Linked DNA regions of Homo sapiens: region 1 is linked to region 2. The links come from fine-mapping of genetic effects on gene expression. A gene starts in region 2. The other region holds a variant in brackets. All regions are shown on one strand. Distances are between the middles of the regions.

Region 1 (10,513 bases), 33 kb after region 2:
ACGGTACTTATTTATTTATTTATTTATTTTATTTTTGAGGCAGGGTCTCACTCTGTCACCCAGGCTGGAGTGCAATGGTGTGATCTCGGCTCACTGCAATCTCCACCTCCTGGGTTCAAGCGATTCTCCCACCTCAGCCTCCCAAGTAGCTGGGACTATACAGGTACACACCACCACGCCTGGCTAGTTTTTGTATTTTTTTTTAGAAGTGATAAGGTTTTGCTGTGTTGACCAGGCTGGTCTCGAACTCCTGACCTAAAGTGATCTACTCTCCTCTGCCTCCCAAAGTGCTGGGATTACAGGCATGAGCCACCACGCCTGGCCTAGACTTTATTTTTTTAGAGCAGTTTTAGATTCACAGCAAAGTTGAGTGGAAAGTGCAGAGATTCCCCATCTATCTCCTGTCCCCACCTCCACCCCCACCATCCCCCACCAGAGTGTTACATTCGTTACAGTCAGTGAGCCTACAGTGACATACCATCATCACTCAAAGTCCATAGTGTACATTGGGGTTCCCTCTTGGTGTTGTTCATTCTGTGGGGTTAGAGAAATGCATAATGACACGGATCCACCACTGCAGTATCACCCAGAGTGGCTTCACTGCCCTAACAGTCCCCCGGGTTCTGCCTCTTCATCCGTCCCTCCTGCAGCCCTGCAACCACTGACCCTTTTACTATCTCCAAAGATTTGCCTTTTTCAGAACGTCATGTGGTTGGAATCATACAGTATGTAGCCTCTTGAGGTTGGCTTCTTTCACTTAGTAAATATCCATGTAAGTTTCTTCCACATTTTTTCATGGTTCGATAGCTCCTTTTTTCAGTGCTGAGTAATATTCCTTTGTCTGGATGTAGCACAGTTTATCCATTCACCTACTGGAGGACGTGTTAGTTGCTTCTAAGTTTTGGCAATTATGAACAGAGCTGCTATAAACATCCCTGGGCAGGCCTTTTTGTGGACAGAAGTTTCCACCTCATTTGGGTAGGAACCAAGGAGTGTGATGGCCAAATCGTACGGTAAAAGTATGTTTAGTTTTGTAAGAAACGGCCAAGCTGTCTTCCAAAGTGGCTGTACCATTTCGCATTCTCGCCAGCAGTGGATGAGAGTTCCTGTTGCCCCACATCTTCGCCAGCATTTGGTTGTCAGTGTTCTGGATTCTGGGCATTCTAATAGCCGTGTGGTGGTATCTCACTGTAGTTTTAATTTGCATTTCCCCAGTGATACAAGATACGGTGTATCTTTCATATGCTTACTTGCCATCTGTCTGTCTTTTTGGTGAGGTGTCTGCTCAGGGCTTCCGTCCATTTTAAAATCAGGTTGTTTATAATTTAATCTGCTAAAGAAGTTTTCTCATGGTAGATAGTCTTTTAAAAAAAATAGATTGTTCTCAGCTGGGTGCGGTGGCTCACACCTGTAATCTTAGCACTTTGGGAGGCCAAGGCGGGCGGATCACCTGAGGTCAGGAGTTCAAGACAAGCCTGGCCAACATGGCGAAACCCCGTCTCTACTAAAAATACAAAAATTAGCTGGGCATGGTGGTGGGTGCCTGTAATCCCAGCTACTTGGGAGGCTGAGGCTGGAGAATCACTTGAACCCAGGAGGCAGAGGTTGCAGTGAGCTGAGATCACGCTATTGCACTCCATCCAGCCTGGGCGACAAGAGCGAAACTCTGTCTCAAAAAAAAAAAAAAAAAAGATCGTTCTTTTGGGGCAAAACTCGCCTTGCCATCATTACTGGTTAATACAGTATTTATGTGCAGGAGGAAGAATATTGTCCCTATTGGAAATATGTCCAGAGAGGTTGGATAATTTTTCCTGCCACCACCAAGGCCTTGGAAGAGGGACGAGGGTTTGCCTCCTGGCAATGCCACATTGCTGCTTGTTTATTTTAAAAGGCAGAATTGAACATCATTCTCTTCAAATGTCTTTCTGTGGTCTATGTGGAACTTCCCAAAATGAGCGTGTCAAGGGACAAGGGATGGTAAGACGATGCCACACGTGACATAGTTTGCTGTGTCCTTGGAGGTAGAAAGGGCCCCCAGCAGGGAGTGAAGGCAGAGTCCTTGCTTGGGGTTTTTCTGAAGCTCTTCCTGAGCCCATGGCAGACGAAGCTCATCCACCAGAGACCCTCCGAATCCTCCACAACACAGGGTTCTAAGCAGCTACTAGCAGGCGATCAGGAGTGGCAGGGAAATGACACCATGAGCCAGCCCCGGCCTGAGTGTGCTCAAAAACACCCCACGTCTCCCCTTTAATTTTCTAAGACAGTCTCCCTCTGTGGCCCAGGCTGGAGTGCGGTGGCCTGATCCTGGCTCACTGCAACCTCTGCCTCCTGGATTCAAGCCATTCTCCTGCCTCCCTGGATTCAAGCCATTCTCTCAGCCTCCCGACTAGCCGGGACTATGGGTGTGTGCCACCATGCCCGGCTAACTTGTGTATTTTTAGTAGAGATGGGTTTTTGCCATGTTGGCTGGGCCAGTCTCCAACTCCTGACCTCAAGTGATCCGCCCGCCTCGGCCTCCCACAGTGCTGGGATTATGGGCATAAGCCACCGTGTCCAGCCCTTCAGAAGTCCCTTCTGACTCTGACATTCTGTGCTGGCTGCCTCCTGGGGAGAAGGTGAAGGGAGATTCATGCGTGCTCGGCAGGGAGGCAGCGCGGTTCAGGGGTTGGAAGCTTGGGTGCTGGAATCTGGTGCATCAGGATGTGGATGAGTCCCAGTTCTTCCACCAACTGGCTGTGTGGCCTTAGAGAAGTCACTTGACCCCACAGATCCTGTTTCTTCCTCTTGTTAATACTTGCTTCCTGGGTTTGCAGGTGTGAGGATTCCTCCAAGCTCTGTGTGTGTGTGTGTTTAAAGTACCTGGCACATAGGGGAGTCCATGGGGGGCAGCGGAGGGAGCCCCATTCAGAATAGTGATAAACACTATGATGTGTGCCATGACCCTAGTGGTCCAACGAAGGCTTCATGGCTGGGCCAGCCTTCTGGCCTGGGGGATTCAGCCACCATCCCCTCTCATCAGCCCCCCAAGACCCACTTGCCTGCAGCTTCCAGATGAAAGGGCTCACCATGGAGGAGGAATGGGGCGAGCTGCAGGCTGGCTCAGAGGGGTCTGGGGGCAGGGTCCCAGTACCCACTGATTAATCTTTTGGGGTCACCTAGCAGTCCAGGGAGAACCCCAACACCCCACAGGCAAGTGGCTGGACCTGGCCAAGGCCAGGGCCTCATGAAGATCCAGGGTCATTCTAGAAGTTCTAGGAGGATTATTCCCTTCTCCACCCCACAGTCCGTGAGTGTGGATAGGTGGCCCGTAATCAACACTCCCTCCAGAGGTTTCTGGCTAAGGGGGACAGAGGAGAGGCCATGGAGGAGAAGGAAAGGCAAGAGGACAGAGTTCTGTGACCTGAAATTGCCACCAGCTGTCTTTAGCCCCAGAGGAAACTGTCTTTTCAAAGAGAGAGGCTGCGGAAATGGCAGATGCTTGAAGAATCAGCTTCCCTCCAAATTCCCGGTCTCTTGCTCTGGGCTTTACTTGACCAATGTGCTTCTTTGGTTTGGTTTTTATACACCCCACAGCCTTGTTGTGTTTACCCCCTTTTCAGGCCTGCTGGGGAAGGGCTCAGTCTTAGCCTGGCACAGAGCTGGGAGCCGGGCCGGGAGCCCCCAGCTGGCAGGCACCTCCCTTTCCTGGCCCACGCTGCTCTTCCTCCAGGCCCCCGCCACCCCAAACCTTTAACAGGAGACTTGGCTGGGAAGTCAAAAGGACTTTCCCGCTGCTTTCAGATGCTTAGGCACATTCACCAGGCCATTATGGGCCTCACTACCTTTAGGCGGGGAACTTTTTAAAAGTGAGTTTTTTTTCTAAAATCCAGAATTTCTGACAGCCCAAGTTAACAAGCCCCCACAAGTGAATTCAGAGAGCATTAACGGGAAAGTTCTAAACAGAACCTCTGCTGTCATGTAAGCAGCTCAGAAAAAAACACTCTTCTCCCATTTTAAGGGTGAACATGGCACTTTGATGTGGCCCCATTTCCTTATAAAGCCCCCTCTGAGAAGGCGGAAAGCTGAAGTTTAATCTGGAGCCAACAAATTACTTGGAATTTGCAAGCACACATGCTTAGCCCATAGGAGCTAAAGTCCACAGTAAAAGAAAGAAAACGAAAAAAAAAAGAAAGGTGGGGTAGGGAGTCACAGAAGGAGAGAAAGGGAGGAAGACAAAACCCACCTCCACTCACCAACTGGCTAAGACTCAGATGTATTATCATGGAATCTAGTGTGGGGGGTCCTAATGCTCACAGCCCCCTTTTCAAAACGAAAACAAGCCACATACCCCTGAATAGTAGAATGGTACTTCTAAAGCAGGGCACCTTGGCTGGGCACGGTGGCTCACGCCTGGAATCCCAGCACTTTGGGAGGCTGAGGCGGATGGATCGCTTGAGCCCAGGGGTTAGGCACCAGCCTGGGCAACATGGTGAAACCCCGTCTCTACAAAAAATACAAAAATTGGCCAGGCGTGGTAGTGGGCGCCTGTAATTTCAGCTACTCTAGAGGCTCAGGTGGGAGGATCGCTTAAGCCTGAGAGTTCAAGGCTGCAGCGGAGCCCAGATCGCGCCGCTGCACTCCAGCCTGCGCCACAGAGTTAGACCCTGTCTCGAAAAAAATAATAGTAATAATAATTTTTAAAAAATACATTTTATAAAGCAAAGCTACCCTCGGTTCCCGGTTTGATAAGGGGTGGATTCCAAATAAGCAGCTGTCTTGCCGCCTTGCCAAGGGAAAGGAGCTGGGCAAATTCCTGCAGAGTCCCCACAAAGCTTCACTTTCCCCAGATGCTTGGGTGGGAGGACCCTCGCTAAGGGATCAAGGTTGCAGGTGCAGAGGGGGTCCCTGACAGAGGGAGGGCAAGGGAGGGGCGCCCCGGGTGAAGGTGACTTTGAGTTCCAGGTGTGTGGGCTAGCAGTTGAAGAGGGGGTGCAGCGCGGACCCCCCTGGGGCCAGAGTCCGATAGACCAGCTGAATGGCCGCTCTGCAGCTTTCTCGCTGTGTGACCTTGGGCGACTGACCTCCCTCCCTAGTCTCGGTT[A/T]TCCCGACTGTTAAACGGGGACGGTAGCAGCAGTACCTGCCTCATAGGGTTACCGTGTGTGGAGACACGCCCATAGGCGCCCGGCCCGGCCTGGCCCTTAGCCTTGGCCTTGGCCGGAGCTGGACACGTAGGAACTGCCTTTGTCACTAATCGGGGGTTGGATTCCCTTGCACTCGGTGCCAGGATAGGAAAGAGCAGTCAGTCCTGGCTCCCACCCGGGACCTGCCTGGAGAGCGGGAGTGGAGAGGGAGGTGTCTGAGCTGGAAGGAAGGCGAGGAGGGAGCTGGCTGGGCTGCAGGGGAGCGCTGCGTCCCGCTCCCCCTCCCCTAGGCCGTGCCCCCTCCCGCCCGGCCGGGGCGCGCACCCTCGGAGCAGCTGGGCGGCGGCGGCGCGGGCAGCGCGGGGCTGGGCGCGGGATCTATTAACGTCTGTGTGTCTGGGCCGCGGGACTGCGGCGAGGCAGGCGCCAGGGGCTCGTCTGGAACCAGATGTGCCGCGGCGCCGCTCTGGCCGCCACCAGCGCGGCGCGCTCGCACGCACTGGCTGGCGCGCACATGGCCGGGCTGGGCGGCGGCGGCTGGCGCGCCGGCCCTGGCATCCCCTGGATTTCGGACCGACCCCAGACCCGCGCGTGCGGAGGGGAGACCCCCGCCCAGCAAGCCAGCTCCCCGTCCAGATGGGAAAGCCACCCACGAGACGGGTGGGGTCCGCCTCGCCCCTCGGCCCTGTCCCGGGGGAGGGAAAGATGGCTTCTCAGAAACCTGCCCCCCTGCTAGCGCCCCCGCTGTCTCCACCCCACAAAGGGCTGGGGACGCTTCCCCGCCCCCCGAAGTTTGTTTTCCTAAGTTTGTGCGTAAGATTTTTCAAAATTCTGAGTCAGAGCTTCCCCTAAGATGAGGCCTTTGGGGCATGCGAGAAACGCCAAAATGTGGGTGGGGGAGGGGAGCGTGGAGGTTGGAGGGTTTTAAGCGCCGGGATTCGGAAGGGGGCTTTTCACCCACTGGGTGAGTACAAGGGCTTCATTGAGGCCGGTCCCAGCTCCGCACCAAATCTGTCTTAACCACAAGGTGGTCCCTGGTCCTGGCTGCTGTCAGCACCGAGCCTTCCCGTCCCCAGGCAGCTTCGGGGTGCTCTGCCTTTCTGGACCAGCCCCTTCAGCTCTCTGGGCCCCCTCGCAGGGCCTATAAAGTGAGCAGTGGAGCTGGGAGCTCCCAGCAGGGGAGCTTAGGAGAAATGGGTGGTTGGATGGGGCGGGGGGGGGGGGGGGCGGGGGCACTTAGGCTCTGTCTCCATGGTTCTCCACCAAAAGGAAGCGTAAGACCAGGCGGTGGTGCTGCCAGGCCGGGCTGGGCCAGGCCAACCCAGTCTGGCTGCAGAGAAGAGGGCTTGCCCAGGGCTTGGGACTCAGCAGTTCCCCGAGTTCCCCCTGGTGTGCAGCCCTTCCCCATGATCGGGAGGAGGGTGTTTGGTGAAACACACGTGGCAAGAGCGGGTTTTTCCCGCCACGCCTGCCTTCCTTGTTCCGGAAAAGGGGAGCTGGGATGCTGGGTAGGGTGGGGGTGTCAGCCATGCACATCAACTCAGAGACTAATCCCTGCTAGGCGCGTGTGGGCAGAGGTTGAGACAACCCAGACTGGGCAGCCAAGGCTTTGGCCATTTGTCAGTACTGGGTGGACGCCCCCTCACGTCACTACCTCACGTCACTACCATCCCATCTGAGGCCCTATGGGCCCACTTCACAGGGAAACAGGCCCAGAGAGGAGCGGTCACAGGCTCAAAGTCACAGAGCTGGGATGTGGAGAAGGTAGGATTCCCACCCTGCCTGCTGGACTCCAGAGATGAAACCTTGGGCTTGGGATCAAATCTTCCTGGTGTCTGGAGGCTCAGGAAACAAGGTGGTTCGTTCCTAAACTCTAGGAAGTAGAGGGAGGATGCTGGCCCAGCTGGAGGGCCATCAGGATAGCCTGACTGTCCCTTCCCTCCCAGGGCATGCTGGAGGCCCTTCCCCACAGGAAGGCCGCTGTGCCTGTTCCTCTGACTATGAGCACCAGCAAAGCCAGGCTGAAGCATTTCCCTGTGGGAGGTGATTTCCCTAGCCCATGCTCTGGCCTGTCAATTAAAAAAATCCATCAATAGGCTGGGCGCAGTGGCTCACGCCCATAATCCCAGAACTTTGGGAGGCCAAGGTGGGCAGATCACTTGAGGTCAGGAGTTCGAGACCAGCCTGGCCAACATGGTGAAACCTCGTCTAAAATATATACACACAAAATTAGCTGGGCGTGGTGGTGCGCACCTGTAATCCCAGTTGCTTGGGAGGCTGAGGTGGGAGAAACACTTAAACCCAGGAGGTGGAAGTTGCAGTGAGCCGAGATCACGCCATTGCACTGCAGCCTGGGCAACAGGGCAAGACTCTGTCTCAAAAAAAATATATATATGTGTGTGTGTGTGTGTGTGTGTGTGTGTGTGTATACATATATCCATCAATATATTAGTTTCTGCAGATAGGAGGGTCCAGAAGTGAGAAGGCTTGTAATGGTGTATAGTGCATACAAATTTTCAGGTGTTTGGGCAAGCAGAGAATTGAGATTATGTTCCCATCAGGAGCCAAAATCCATTCATTCATTCACTTACATATTCATTCAGTATTTATTGAGGACCTGCTATGCATCCGCCCGGAATAAAGAATATCCAGTGTGTGACTGTGCCATGGCTTTCTACATGGTCCAGCCCAGCTTTCTGGGAAGCATCCACGAAGGATGAATTCTTTCCTTGGGCACCTTCAGGGCAGCCTCTGCTCTGTGTGTGTCAGTGCAAGCTTTGGGGAGGAAGTGTCCCAGGGAGCAGAGAACTTGGTCTCTGAGGCACCGACAGCAGCTGTTCAGGAGAGAGACCTCAGCGTGCCAGGCACATGGTTGCTTCTGCCTCTCAGCATCCCAAGTCTCCACCAGACAGTTACAAACCGAGGTCTAGAGAGGTTCAGTAAATTGCCTCAAAGCTGCACAGCCAATATACAGCAAGTGTGGGAGGGGAACGCACACGCACCTAACTCCAGATAAATATACTAATGGCTAACGTGATTTAGCACTTACTACGTGCCAGGCACTGCTTTAAGAACCTTATATATATATTCTTTCATTTAATTTTCACAACAACTCTGGGAGGAAGATCTTGTTATCCCCATTTTCTGGATGGGATAACTGAAGCACAGAGAGGTTGTAACTTCCTCAGGGTCACACAGCAGTGAAGTTGGGATTTGAACTTAGGCAGCCTGCCGCCAGGGTCCAGCTCTTCCTCAGTGGGGTGCTGTATTTTTTTTTGGTTTGTTGTTGTTGTTGGCTTTTTTTTTTTTTTTAGATGAAGCCTCGCTCTGTCGCCCAGGCTGGAGTGCAGTGGCGCAATCTCGGCTCTCCGCCTCCCAGGTTCAAGCGATTCTCTTGCCTCAGGCTCCTGAGTAGCTGGGAGTACAGGCACATGCCACCAAGCCCGGCTAATTTTTGTATTTTTAGTAGTGACGGGGTTTCACCATGGTGGCCAGGCTGGTCTTGAACTCCTGCCTTCAAGTGATCTGCCCGCCTCCGCCTCCCAAAGTGCTGGGATTGCAGAGCCACACCTGGCCGTTATTGTTGTTTTGAGACAGGGTCTGAACCTGTCACCCAGGCTGGAGTGCAGTGGCACAATTGTGGCTCACTGTGACCTTCATCTCCCGGGCTCAAGTGATCCTCCCACTTCAGCCTCCTGAGTTGCTGGGACTACAGGTGCGTGCCACCATGCCCGGCTAATGTTTTAATTTTTTGTAAAGGTGGGGGTTTTGCCATGTTGTCCAGGCTGGTCCCAAACTCCTGGCCTGAAGCGATCCACCCGCCTCAGCCTCCCAAAGTGCTGGGATTACAGGCGTGAGCCACGGTGCTTAGCCAGTACGCCACCTTTTGTGGGCTGGCCTGTTCTGACCAACTTGGTAGCAAAAAGGTTCCTTCTGGAGAGGAGAGCGCTGTTGGAAGAACTTATGTGAAGGATTTGGGGTCTTGAAATCCAGCAGAAGGACAAAGAAATGAGACATTTTTCACAGTGTTTACAATAGAGGAAAATCGCAAGAGACCTAAATATCCCACAAGAGGGGAAGGGCTGTGAGGCCGTTTTGGCATCCCCACTAGGGGAAGTGATGCAGCCGCTCACACTAACGTGAGGAAGAAGATAGGAAACAGAGCAGAGGGTTTAGGATGGAGCTTGAGGGACCATCGTTCACTGTGTGTCGCTCACAGCGGGAAGCAGTCTACCTGCACCATCACATTGACTTCGCTTCATAAAATGGTGAGGTCATGGCAGTCACCAACGCGATAGCTGATGTTACTTGACCACTAACTGGGTGCCAGGTATTGTCGAGGCACTTTAGGTGTTGCTGTTCCCACTTACAGTGGGGACACTGAGTCTCACAGAGCTCACAGAGCTGGCATGGAAAGCCAGAACCAGAATGCAGCTATTTCCAGGAAAGCGGGATATGGTTGGGCAGGTTGTCCACTGCATAACTGCAGGGGACACCAGTCACACTGGAGTCTGTGGGAATGGCACCCCTGAAGTTGTACAGTGCACAGCCTGTGCAACCATACGCAGCATCCCTGGGTGTGTCTGATCACAATCCTAGGCTCTTAATCCATGCCCCATCCAAAACAGAAAATGATATTCATGCACACTGTAAATGGAGTCATGTGATAGCTAGATACATGTGGACATGCAACAAAAAGTATGCAAAGAATTAAACAGATATGCTGTTGTCGTGGGATTTGTAGGAGATTTTTTTCCTTTCAAATGTCCTTAGGCCAGGCGCAGTGGCTCACGCCTGTAATCCCACACTTTAGGAGGCCAAGGCAGGCGGATCACTTGAGGTCAGGAGTTGGAGACCAGCCTGGCCAACATGGTGAAACCCCATCCATACTAAAAATACAAAAAAATTAGTCAGGCCTGATGCCGGGTGCCTGTAATGCCAGCTACTCAGGAGGCTGAGGCAGGAGAATCGCTTGAACCCGGGAGGCAGAGGCTGCCCTGAGCCAGGATCGCACCACTGCACTCCAGCCTGGGCGACAGAGTGAAACTCCGTCTCAAAACTTTCTACGACTGCCAGGCGCGGTGGCTCACACCTGTAATCCCAGCACTTTGGGAGGCTGAGGCGGGTGGATCACGAGGTCAGGAGATCGAGAACATCCTGGCTAACACGGTGAAACCCTGTCTCTACTAAAAATACAAAAGCATTAGCTGGGCATGGTGGTGGGCGCCTGTAGTCCCAGCTACTCGGGAGGCTGAGGCAGGAGAATGGCGTGAACCCGGGAGGCGGAGCTTGCAATGAGCAGAGATCGCGCTACTGCACTCCAGCCTGGGCGACAGAGCGAGACTCCGTCTCAAAAAAAAAAAAAAAACTTTCTAGAACTCTCTGTGATGATG
Region 2 (10,513 bases):
GGGGCTGGCGGGGCTGTATTTCCTTCTGGATTCTGTTTCCTGCTTTTTCCAGCTCCTGGAGGCTACCTGCGTTCCTTGGCTTGTGGCTGCCTTCCTCCATCTTCAAAGCCAGCAACAGCCAATAGAGTCTTTCTCACATCACATCACTCCGACAGCAACTCTGCTGCCTCCCTTTTCCACTTGTGATTACTATATGGGGCCCAGCCAGATAATCCAGAACAATTCTCCAGTGTTAAAGTCAGCCGATAGGCAGGCTTAATTCCATCTGTTACCTTAATTCCCCTTTAACACATTCATGGGTCCCAGGGATTATGATATAAACACCTTTGGAAGGTCATTATTTGCCCACCACAGCCTATTCTAGGTATTTATTCTTTGTGTGTGTGTGTGTGTGTGTGTGTGTGTGTGTGTGTGTGTGTGTGTGTGTGTGATGGAGTCTCGCTCTGTTGCCCAGGCTGGAGCGCAGTGGCGCGACCTCGATTCACTGCACACTCCGCCTCCCGGGTTCACGCCATTCTCCTGGCTCAGCCTCCCAAGTAGCTGGGACTACAGGCGCCCGCCACCACGCCCGGCTAATTTTTTTGTATTTTTAGTAGAGACGGGGTTTCACCGTGTTAGCCAGGATGGTCTCGATCTCCTGACCTTGTGATCTGCCCGCCTCGGCCTCGCAAAGTGCTGGGATTACAGGCGTGAGCCACCGCGCCCGGCCATTCTAGGTATTTATTCTTAAGAAAATAACGGTGTGGCCAGGCGCGGTGGCTCACGCCTATAATCCCAGCACTTTGGGAAGCCAAGGTGGGCGGATCACCTGAGGTCAGGAGTTCCAGACCAGCCTGACCAACATGGAGAAACGCCGTCTCTACTAAAAAGTACAAAAATTAGCTGGGTGTGGTGCTGTATGCCCGTAATCTCAGCTACTCCGGAGGCTGTGGCAGGAGAATCGCTTGAACCTGGGAGGCAGATGTTGCAGTAAGCCGAGATTGTGCCATTGCACTCCAGCCTGGATGACAGAGACAGAGTGAGACCCCCTGTTCAAAAAAAACAAAAACAAACAAACAAAAAAAAAAAACAAAGAAAGAAAGAAAGAAAAGGAAAGGAAAAAGCAAATGGGGAAACTGAAGCCTAAAGAGTTTAGGAGCCTTAACGAAAGCCCATAGTGGCCGGGCGTAGTGGTTCACACCTGTAATTCCAGCACTTTGGGAAGACGAGGTGGGCGGATCACCTGAGGTCAGGAGTTCAAGACCAACCTGACCAACATGGAGAAACCCCATCTCTACTAAAAAATACAAAAATTAGCTGGGCATGGTGGTATATGCCCGTAATCTCAGCTACTCGGGAGGCTGAGGCAAGAGAATCACTTGAACCTGGGAGGCAGAGGTTGTGGTGAGCCGAGATTACGCCATTGCACTCCAGCCTGGGCAACAAGAGCAAAACTCCATCTCAAAAAAAAAAGGAAAAAGTCTTGAACGCCTCGTGTGTGTGTTAAGGCCTTTTAGGAATGGGTTATAGGTGATTTTTATTCTCTTAATTCTAATGATGCTTTCTAAAATCTCAACCATAACATATTACTTTTGCAATAAGAAAAGTTACCTTTTCATTTTTAACATGTGAGCTTTTGAGACTGGGGCAAATATGAGTTTTCACTGAAGGTCAGACCTAGAACTTAGCCTCAAATGGAACCACCAGTGAATAATCAGCTCCTTCTCCGCGAATCCCATCTGGTGAGCAGGGGCCCTCTTTCTTTCCCTTCCCTTTCTCCCTGGCTGGCTGCAGTGCCCGGCTCAGTAACCACAAGTTGATCTGAGAGGTTCTGAATGGGAATCCTATTTGCCCTCCATTTCCTCTTCTGGGTTAGCCTCTCAGATTTATCAAAATCATCATGAAATGATTTATTTTTAGCCATATCCCTTTGGGGTGATGAGTCCCTGAGTTCTGCCCTCCTGGGATTCCCTGGAGTTTCCTTGGGTGTATTCCCAGGCTGGATCAGAGCTGACGCTCATGCTCAGCAGGTTATAAAACAGGAGGTAAACATACTTCCACTTTTATAACATAGGACTATAGTATACAATCCTAAACATAAAACTATATGTAGGACTGTATATTATAGAACTTTCTTCATCTCTCTAGATATATAGAGATAAGCTACAAAGATATATTCGAATTATTTTTAGTTCATCCCTTTTTCTTGTCTTATTGCTTTCTTGTCTTATTGCACAGTGCAGCAGTCTATGCCCTTTGCCCCACCCTTCCATCCCTGCCCCAACCCCAGCCCTTATCCCCAGGCTGGGCAAGGGAATAGGCAGCAACAATAATGATGGTAAATCCACAAGAACCCTTTGGATTGGCTCCTCTACTATTCCTATTTTACAGACGATGGGACAGACTCAGGGAGGATGGGCAAGTGACATATTCAAGGCCACGCAGCCAGTAAATGGCAGTGGGTAGATTCATACCCATGTCCCTCAGCTGCACAGTCCGAGTTCACCATCCTTGCCCTGTCTACTTCTCAGAACATATGTTTATTTTATTTGTTTTATGTATTTATGTATTTATTTATTTTTTGAGACAGAGTTTCACTCTTGTTGCCCAGGCTGCAGTGCAATGGCGAGATCTTGGATCACTGCAACCTCTGCCTCCCGGGTTCAAGCAATTCTCCTGCCTCAGCCTCCTGGGTAGCTGGGATTACAGGTGCCCGCCACCACACCCAGCTAATTTTTTGTATTTTTAGTAGAGATGGGGTTTCACCATGTTGGCCAGGCTGGTCTCAAACTCCTGACCTCAGGTGATCTGCCCGCCTCAGCCTCCCAAAGTGCTGGGATTACAGGCATGAGCCACTGCGCCCAGCCAGATATTTAAAAAATAATCATTGTTAACATGTATTAAATGCTCACTAGGTACCAGGTGTCCTTTATTTATACATTGGTTTATTTAATCCTCCTAACAGCTCATTTTCTTTTTCTTTTTCTTTCTTTCTTTTTTTTTTTTTTTTTGAGATAGGGTCTCTTTATCTGCTGACCTTCCCTCCACTATTGTCCTATGACCCTGCCAAATCCCCCCCTGCGAGAAACACCCAAGAATGATCAATAAATACTAAAAATAAATAAATAAATAAATAAAATTAAATTAAAAAAAAAAGAGAGATAGGGTCTCACTCTGCTGCCCAGGCTGGAGTGCAGCGGTGCCATCACAGCTCACTGTAGCTCAACCTCCCAGGCTCAAGCAATCCTCCGATCTCAGCCTCCAAGTAGCTGGGGACTATAGGCATGCATTGCCACACCAGCTACTTTTTTTTTCTAGAGATGAGGTCTCACTATGTTGCCCAGGCTGGTCTTGTACTTCTGGGCTCAAAAGATCCTCCTACCTCAGCCTCCCAAAGTGCTGGGATTACAGGCCTGAGCCACCACACCCAGTCAGCTCATTTTACATTTAAGGCCCCCAAGAGAAAGAGGCTAAATAGATTGCTCAAAGCTCAGGCAAGGTCTTGATCTGCACCCAGGAGGCTGGTGCCAGACAGCCATCATGCTACAGAGATGGAGTTACCTCTCAACATGTGTAGGATGAGTAATTGCAGGAGTGAGTGGAAGAAGCCACTGTGGCCACTGGCCATGCCGAGAGATCGGAACACTGCGCTTCCCAGCTCTGGGCCTCGCATTGCTGATCTGTAAAACAAAAGGGCTTAAACCAAACAATTTCCATGGTTCTCCCAGCTCCAGAAGAGCTTTCACCTTTTTTTGGCCTCAGTTTTCCCATCTGTCTTCCAAGGGAATGATCTAGATGATCCCTCAGGCCCTTTGACTGCACAGGCCAATGTCAACAGTACCCTCTGTGTGTTCCAGGCCATGGGCCCAGAAGTTCACCTACTATGGAGTCCCCATTGTGCCCAGGAGACAGGCTCTTCATTAGGCGCCTTCCACTGTCAGGGAGCTGGGGCTTGGAGAGGGGAGGTGCTGATTTTTTTTTTGAGATGGAATTTTGCTCCTGTTGCCCAGGCTGGAGCACAGTGGCGCGATCTCGGCTCACTGAAACCTCCTCCCAGGTTCAAGCGATTCTCCTGCCTCAGCCTCCCGAGTAGCTGGGATTACAAGTGCATGCCACCATGCCCAGGTAATTTTTGTATTTTTAGTAGAGATGGGGTTTTGCCATGTTGGCCAGGCTGGTCTCAAATTCCTGACCTCAGGTGATCCACCTACCTCGGCCTCCCAAAGTGCTGGGCTTACAGACGTGAGCCACCACGCCCGGCCAAGGTGCTGAATTTGAGGCCACATGGCAGTAGGGGCATAGCTGGGGCTGGAACCCTGTCTCCAACACAAAACTGTTCTGCCTCTGGGATGAAGCCTCTACTCAGTGGGCTGTGCTTTTCCTGGGTAAGACCCCTCCACTCTGAGGGTTTTGCTGGGTGCAGGGGCAGGGTCCTCCCAGACATCCTGAGCCCAGTAGTGGCCCTACCCTGCTCGGTTCCTCAGAAAGTGGTTCAGCCACACACACTGTGGGCAGCACTGGGTATGCCCTGGTGCCCAGACTGGGCTCCTCCCAGCCGCCTAGGATGAGGGAGACTGGCGCCTCTTTGCTGGCCTTTCTTGCTGGACACTCCTTGGAGCAGAGGTCCAAGGACGGAGAACCCCGTCATCTCCAAACCCTCCCTACCCATGTGTGCACCTGCACGGATTGCTGTGGCTAAAGACACTTCAGGGACACTCGGCCTCATTTTTTAAATTATTATTTCTTATTTAATTTAATTTATATATATTTTTTGAGATGGAGTTTCACTCTTGTTGCCCAGGCTGGAGTGCAATGGCGTGATTTCGGCTCACTGCAACCTCCGCCTCCCAGGTTCCAGCTATTCTCCTGCCTCAACCTCCCCAGTAGCTGGGATTACAGGCGCCTGCCACCATGCCCAGCTAATTTTTTTTATTATTATTATTTTTAGTAGAGACAGGGTTTCACCATGTTAGCCAGGCTGGTCTCGAACTCCTGACCTCAGGTGATCCACCCACCTCAGCCTTCCACAGTGCTGGGATTACAGGCGTGAGCCACTGTGCCCGGCCTACTCGGCCTCATTTTGAAGTCGATTCCTTTCCAGCGCGGGAGGGGGTGGGGGCGGACACAAACAACACACGCTGTGAGGATTAATGTATTATAATGTATTGCTAGGCTTTCCTTAAAAATAGTGTTCCCGGCTGGGTGCGGTGGCTCACGCCTGTAATCCCAGCACTGTGGGAGGCCGAGGCAGGTGGATCACCTGAGGTCAGACGCTGGAAACCAGACTGGCCAACATGGTGAAACCCCTCCTCTACTAAAAATACAAAAATTACCCGGGCATGGTGATGCACACCTGTAATCCCAGCTACTCGAGAGGCTGAGGCAGGAGAAGCGCTTGAAGTCAGGAGGCGGAGGTTGCAGCGAGCCGAGATCACGACACTGCACTCCAGCCTGGGCGACAGAGCCAGACTCTTGTCTCAAAAAAATAAAAATAAATAATAATAATAAATAATAAATAAAAATAATGGTCCGCAGGCTTTCAGGGATGTGTGCGGGCCGGTTTTCCATATGGGAACAGGGAAAGGATGTGCTGAAGGCTTCCTCCGGTAGGCGACTTTGGCTGATGTGACTTTATGCCTCGTAGTGAGGGCAGGGCGACAGAGGGACGGGCCGGTGAGCGGCTGTCCTGGAGAAAGAGCAGTGGCATCCGGGGGGCTTAGGGTCTCAGGTCTGCTCACTCCGCACATCTTTTCTGTGCTTTCATTGAAAAACAAAACTGAAACAAGAGCGGACACCTAAGTCTGCCTCTCTCTTTCCTGTCACCCGTCTCAGGCTGGCTGTCCTCTGTGTGTGCGCCAGGAATTCTGCAACGAAGCGCCTGCCTCTCCGCTTGGTTTTCCTTGGGGAAGGGCCTGGGGCCTCCTGGGGGGTGGGCACCGGGTGTGTGGGTGTGTGTGGGGGACCTGGCAGGGAGCAGCGGGGGAGAGGCGGGGTGGGGGGTCGCGTACACCCCAGGAGCCTGAGGATGCGCTGCCTGCTGGGAGAGACAGCCTTGGGGCGGGTGGTGTGCACAGAGCTCTGTCGGCCAGCGCGGGCGGGCGGGGCCGTTGTTGGGGGCGCTGAGGCGAGTGAGGCTGGAGCTGGGAGTGGGGGGCTCGTCGCCTTCGTCTCTGGGCCGCCCCCTCCACCTGCGGAGGCGATTGTAAAGGGAAGGGGGGAATCCCTCTGCCATCACCTCCCAGATACTTGGGGGATGGAAAACGACAAAACACGGAACCTCCCACTCCCTAAAAAGTGGGTGGGGAGGGTGAAGGGAGGACACCCCTTCCCCGCCCCCAGCGCCAGCAGCCGGGGTGGGGGCGGGCGAGGCGCGCGGGGAGGAGAGGGCGGAGGAGAGGACGGGGGGCGAGGTTTGCTTCAAGAAGGGGCGTGTGGCCGGCGCAGCGCGTGCACCAGCGGCTCCGGAGCGAGCGGCCGTGGCTGAGAAGGGGAGGGCGGAAAGTTTGTTTCCCCGACGTCAGCGCCGGGCGGGCCGCGAGGCTAGGAGGCGGCGGGAGCTGGGCAGAGCGCGGGGCGGCCGGGGCTCTCGCTCCGACCCGCGCCCGCGACCCTTCCTGGGACCCGAGCCCGAGACCCCCGCCGGCCCCCCCGGGGCCGCTCGCGGGCATGGACAGCGCGGCCGCCGCCTTCGCCCTGGACAAGCCGGCGCTGGGCCCGGGGCCGCCGCCGCCTCCACCCGCGCTGGGGCCCGGCGACTGCGCCCAGGCGCGCAAGAACTTCTCGGTGAGCCACCTCCTGGACCTGGAAGAGGTGGCGGCGGCCGGGCGGCTGGCGGCGCGCCCCGGGGCCAGGGCCGAGGCGCGGGAGGGCGCAGCACGGGAGCCGTCCGGGGGCAGCAGCGGCAGCGAGGCGGCGCCGCAGGATGGTGAGTACGGCCGGCCAGGGACGGGGGTGGCGGGGCCGGGGCCGGGGCCGGGGCCGGGGCGCGGGGTCCGGGGAGCCGGCGCGGGGCGGGCGAAGATGCAGGGCGCGTGGTCGGCGGCAGGACTTCTGGGGGCGCGTGTAAGTGACGGTGGACGGCGGTTGACCAGCACTCTGGGCTGGGGGAGGGGGACCCTCTTCGGGTCTTGGGGTGCGTCCCCACGGGGAAGTGCGCTGCCTTCGCTCCCCAGTATTCGGCTCCCGAACAGCCTGGGAAGTGGGTGTGGCTGCTGCCGGGTTACAACTGGGGAAACAGAGACCTGAGTCGGGCAAAGCCGCTGAGCTGCACGTTGGGGTTTCAAACCCGCCCCCTCCCGCACGAGCTAGCGCCGCCCCAGCTCCTCCTCGGTCTTAAGTTGGGCTCTTTGGGGGGCGAGGGTGCCTGCCCACCCCCCCCCACCCTCCAGTTTGCCCCGGGAGCAGCTGCCTCGGTGGAACGGCCCAGCCAGGCCTCTCTTCCCCGGCAGAGGTCAAAGGTCATCAGGAAGGGGCTTTAAAAACAAACAACCCACCCAAGTGGCCTTTTTCAAAAAGTGACACAGGATGGCAGGGTCCTGAGCCCTTGGTAAGAAGGGGAGGGACGGGGAGAAGATGGAGAAAAAGCAAAGGCCCCAGCCCCGGACGGTTCAGTGGGGGAGGGGAGGACCGGAGTCCTCGCGGCTCAGCACACACTAAGGATGGGGGCCCGGTGATCTGAAACCAGGCCCCTGTCCCCTAGCTCTGGGGATGGGCCGGCCTGCTGGGGGCTCTGGGCCCCTGAAGTGTGCCCGCCTGACTCCAGCAGCCCTCCCACCCGCCCCGGGGGACCCTGTTCCCGGCACCAGCCTCCAGGTCTCAGGGTGCCCAGGCTGGTGGCTGCGTTCCTTGGCTTTTCAGAGACAGGAGGTGCAGGGAAAACAGAGGTGGCTGCAGCCTAGTCTGAATCCATGTGCGTCCACGAGGACGCCTGCGACACGCCTGCCTTTCACGGGGCACCTTCTGCCAGCCTGTGGCTGAGATGAAGCCACTGGCTCCCTCATGGCAGCGGCCACCACTCACTGGCCACAGTGGACTGGCCACTGGCTGCACCCTCCGGGGTGAGTGTGAAGCCAGCAGACCTCCCAGGAGTTGGGGTTTAGCTCCTCAGTAGAAAAGGGGAGGGAGATGTCCACTCTGGCCCGGAGGAAAGCAGGTGCCCTCTGGTTTGTGCTGGGGGAATGCCCTGCCGGCCCAAGGTCATTTGAGGACCTCAGCGGCTCTGAGCCGGTCCCCCAACCCCAGGACAGAGGAGAGGTCCCGGTTTACCCTGATGAAGGGAGACTCCAGGGGTTGGGAAGAGAAGGAGGAACAACTTGAAGGTGAAGGGAAAGAAGGAAAGGAGAAGGCAAGGAAAGGAGAGAGAGAGGGAGGAGAGACAGAGGAAGAGGAAGGAAGGGAGAGGAGAGAGGGGTGAGGAGGGAAGGAAGGGGGCCAGGGTGTCTCGTACTCCAGTCCTGGCCAGGGGACGGCCTGCCCATTTCTGACCTACCCCTGCTGTGGGGACAGCCAGGGAAGGCCGTGCTTCTCCCGGACACGGTGTTGGAGGTCTCTGGTGGCGGGTTTCCCCGGGGATCCCAGAACAGCTAGTGTCAGCTGGGGATGTGGGCGCCTAGACAAGGCCCTTGGCAGCCTCCAGGCAGCTGGGTGTGCAGTGGGTCTCCCCAGCAGCTCCCTGGGGCTAGCCACCCTCCTGGAGAGCCCATGAGGCCTCCAGGCCTTCTCCTAAGAAGGGGCATTGGCACACTGGGAGTACCCAGGCATGCTTGGGACACACTGGGTGTGGGATCAGGTGGGGTGGGGTCTGGGCCAGGCTCCAGGAGGCGCTCGTGGGCTGGTCCGTCTTGGAAGCTGCCTAGCTCTGCCCTGAGGACGATGGAGCCCTGGCAGGGAGAGTCCCTGGGCTCCGCCCGGGGTGTGGCCCGGATCTGGGTCTACAGGCAGAAGGTGGAGAGAGGGGACTGCAGGGCAGGCGCCAGTTTCCAACTCATCCATCTGGGTCAGGCGGCCCCACCACTGCCACTTGCTGTGGACTCCCAAGTCCTGAAGGCTCCAAAGGTGGGGGAGATGGGATCCTTCTTTCCCCATCATCGACCCTTTGAAAGTGGGCAGCCAAACCTTGCTGGGCTTGCCGGGACTGCAGACCCCAGGCCAGTGGGCTGAGTCTTGGGTTGCGGCATCATCCTCCAGTCCTGGACATACAGGAGCCCGGTCCCCTCACCACGGATCCAGACATGCTTGGAGGTGGGTTTTCCTGTGGCTCTTGGAGTTGTTTTCAGGTCCAAAGAAAGATGGTCTGGCCGGGGGCGGTGGCTCACACCTGTAACCCCAGTGCTTTGGGAGGCTGAGGTGGTTGGATCACTAGAGGTCAGGAGTTTGAGACAAGTCTGGCTAACATGGTGAAACCCCATCTCTACTAAAAATACAAAATTAGCCGGGTGTGGTGGTGCATGCCTGTAATCTCAGCTACTGGAGAAGCTGAGACAGGAGAATCCCTTGAACCCGGGAGGCGGAGGTTGCAGTGAGCCAAGATTGCACCACTGCACACTCCAGCCTGGGCAACAGAATGAGACTCCATCTCAAAAAAAAAAAAAAAAAAAAGAAAGAAAGAAAAGAAAAGAAAGAGATGGCACCAAAGAGGGAGTGCCCCCATTAGAAAAATAAGGGTTAGCCAGGTGCAGTGGCTCACACCTGTAATCCCAGCACTTTGGGAGGCTGAGGCAGTTGGATCACAAGGTCAGGAGTTCAAGACCAGCCTGGCCAAGATAGTGAAACTGCATCTCTACTAAAACTACACAAATTAGTCAGGTGTGGTGACAGACGCCTATAATCCCAGCTACTCGGGAGGCTGAGGCAGGAGAAAAAAAAAAGAAAGAAAGAAAGAAAAATAAGGGTTAATGGGGGACACCAATGAGTTAGGAATTAATACGTCTTCAATCTGCTGGGATAGCAGGCTCAAACTTTTTTTAATTTAAAAATTTTTGTTTGCACAAAGCCACCAGTAGATAAAGCCCGCTACTGCCAATGACTTTCTAAGACCAGGCTCCCTCCAGAAATGGCCGGGAAGACCGTGGCTTCGCCAGTGACTCAGAACAAACCAGGGTCGCGGGTTCCTTCCTCGCCAGTCAAACGCTGAGGGCTGCACCAGGCACGTTAGGAAAACAAACCCTGGTTTGCTGCCTTTGCAATGACTTACAACAAAAGAAACCACATTAATAACTGAGATTTTCTCTAAAGCATTCCCTCCTGTGGGCAGAGTGGAAACGGGGACGTGGACACACTGGGAAAATAAACAAAGCCCCTAGAGCCAGGCAGGGGTGAGGCCTCTGGCCAGGGAAGGCTGGGCGGCCAGTGCTCAGGGCTGGTACCTGCTTTGGAAAACCCCAGGATTCACTGCAGGAGAAACCTTGGGATCCCACGTGGATTCATTTTCCAGAGATTTCGGAAGATGAAGTGCTTGCATCTAAGGCACGGGGCAAGGCAGGGTGAGGTGGGAGCCCTCGAGGGGCTGTCGGTGCATCTGTTCATAGGGGTGGGT

What was found. PIP is the estimated chance that this variant, and not a neighbour inherited with it, causes the effect. A credible set is the group of variants that fine-mapping cannot tell apart.
Region 1: its variant is the best candidate, but not a certain one, in a credible set for the expression of PRRX2 in fibroblasts (GTEx, PIP 0.51).

What each region holds. Positions count from the first base shown.
Region 1 is chr9:129,691,926-129,702,438 of GRCh38, forward strand. All of the region lies in intron 1 of PRRX2 (paired related homeobox 2), which reads left to right. Among named protein-coding and RNA genes, the nearest start is that of PRRX2-AS1, 22 kb to the right of the region's middle. The variant A/T (reference allele first, on the strand shown) is at 5,081.
Region 2 is chr9:129,659,223-129,669,735 of GRCh38, forward strand. It overlaps PRRX2 (paired related homeobox 2), which reads left to right and starts at 6,425. Exons shown (of 4, transcript NM_016307.4): 1 at 6,425-6,904. The coding sequence starts at 6,646. RefSeq lists enhancers at 9,936-10,437, 10,438-10,513.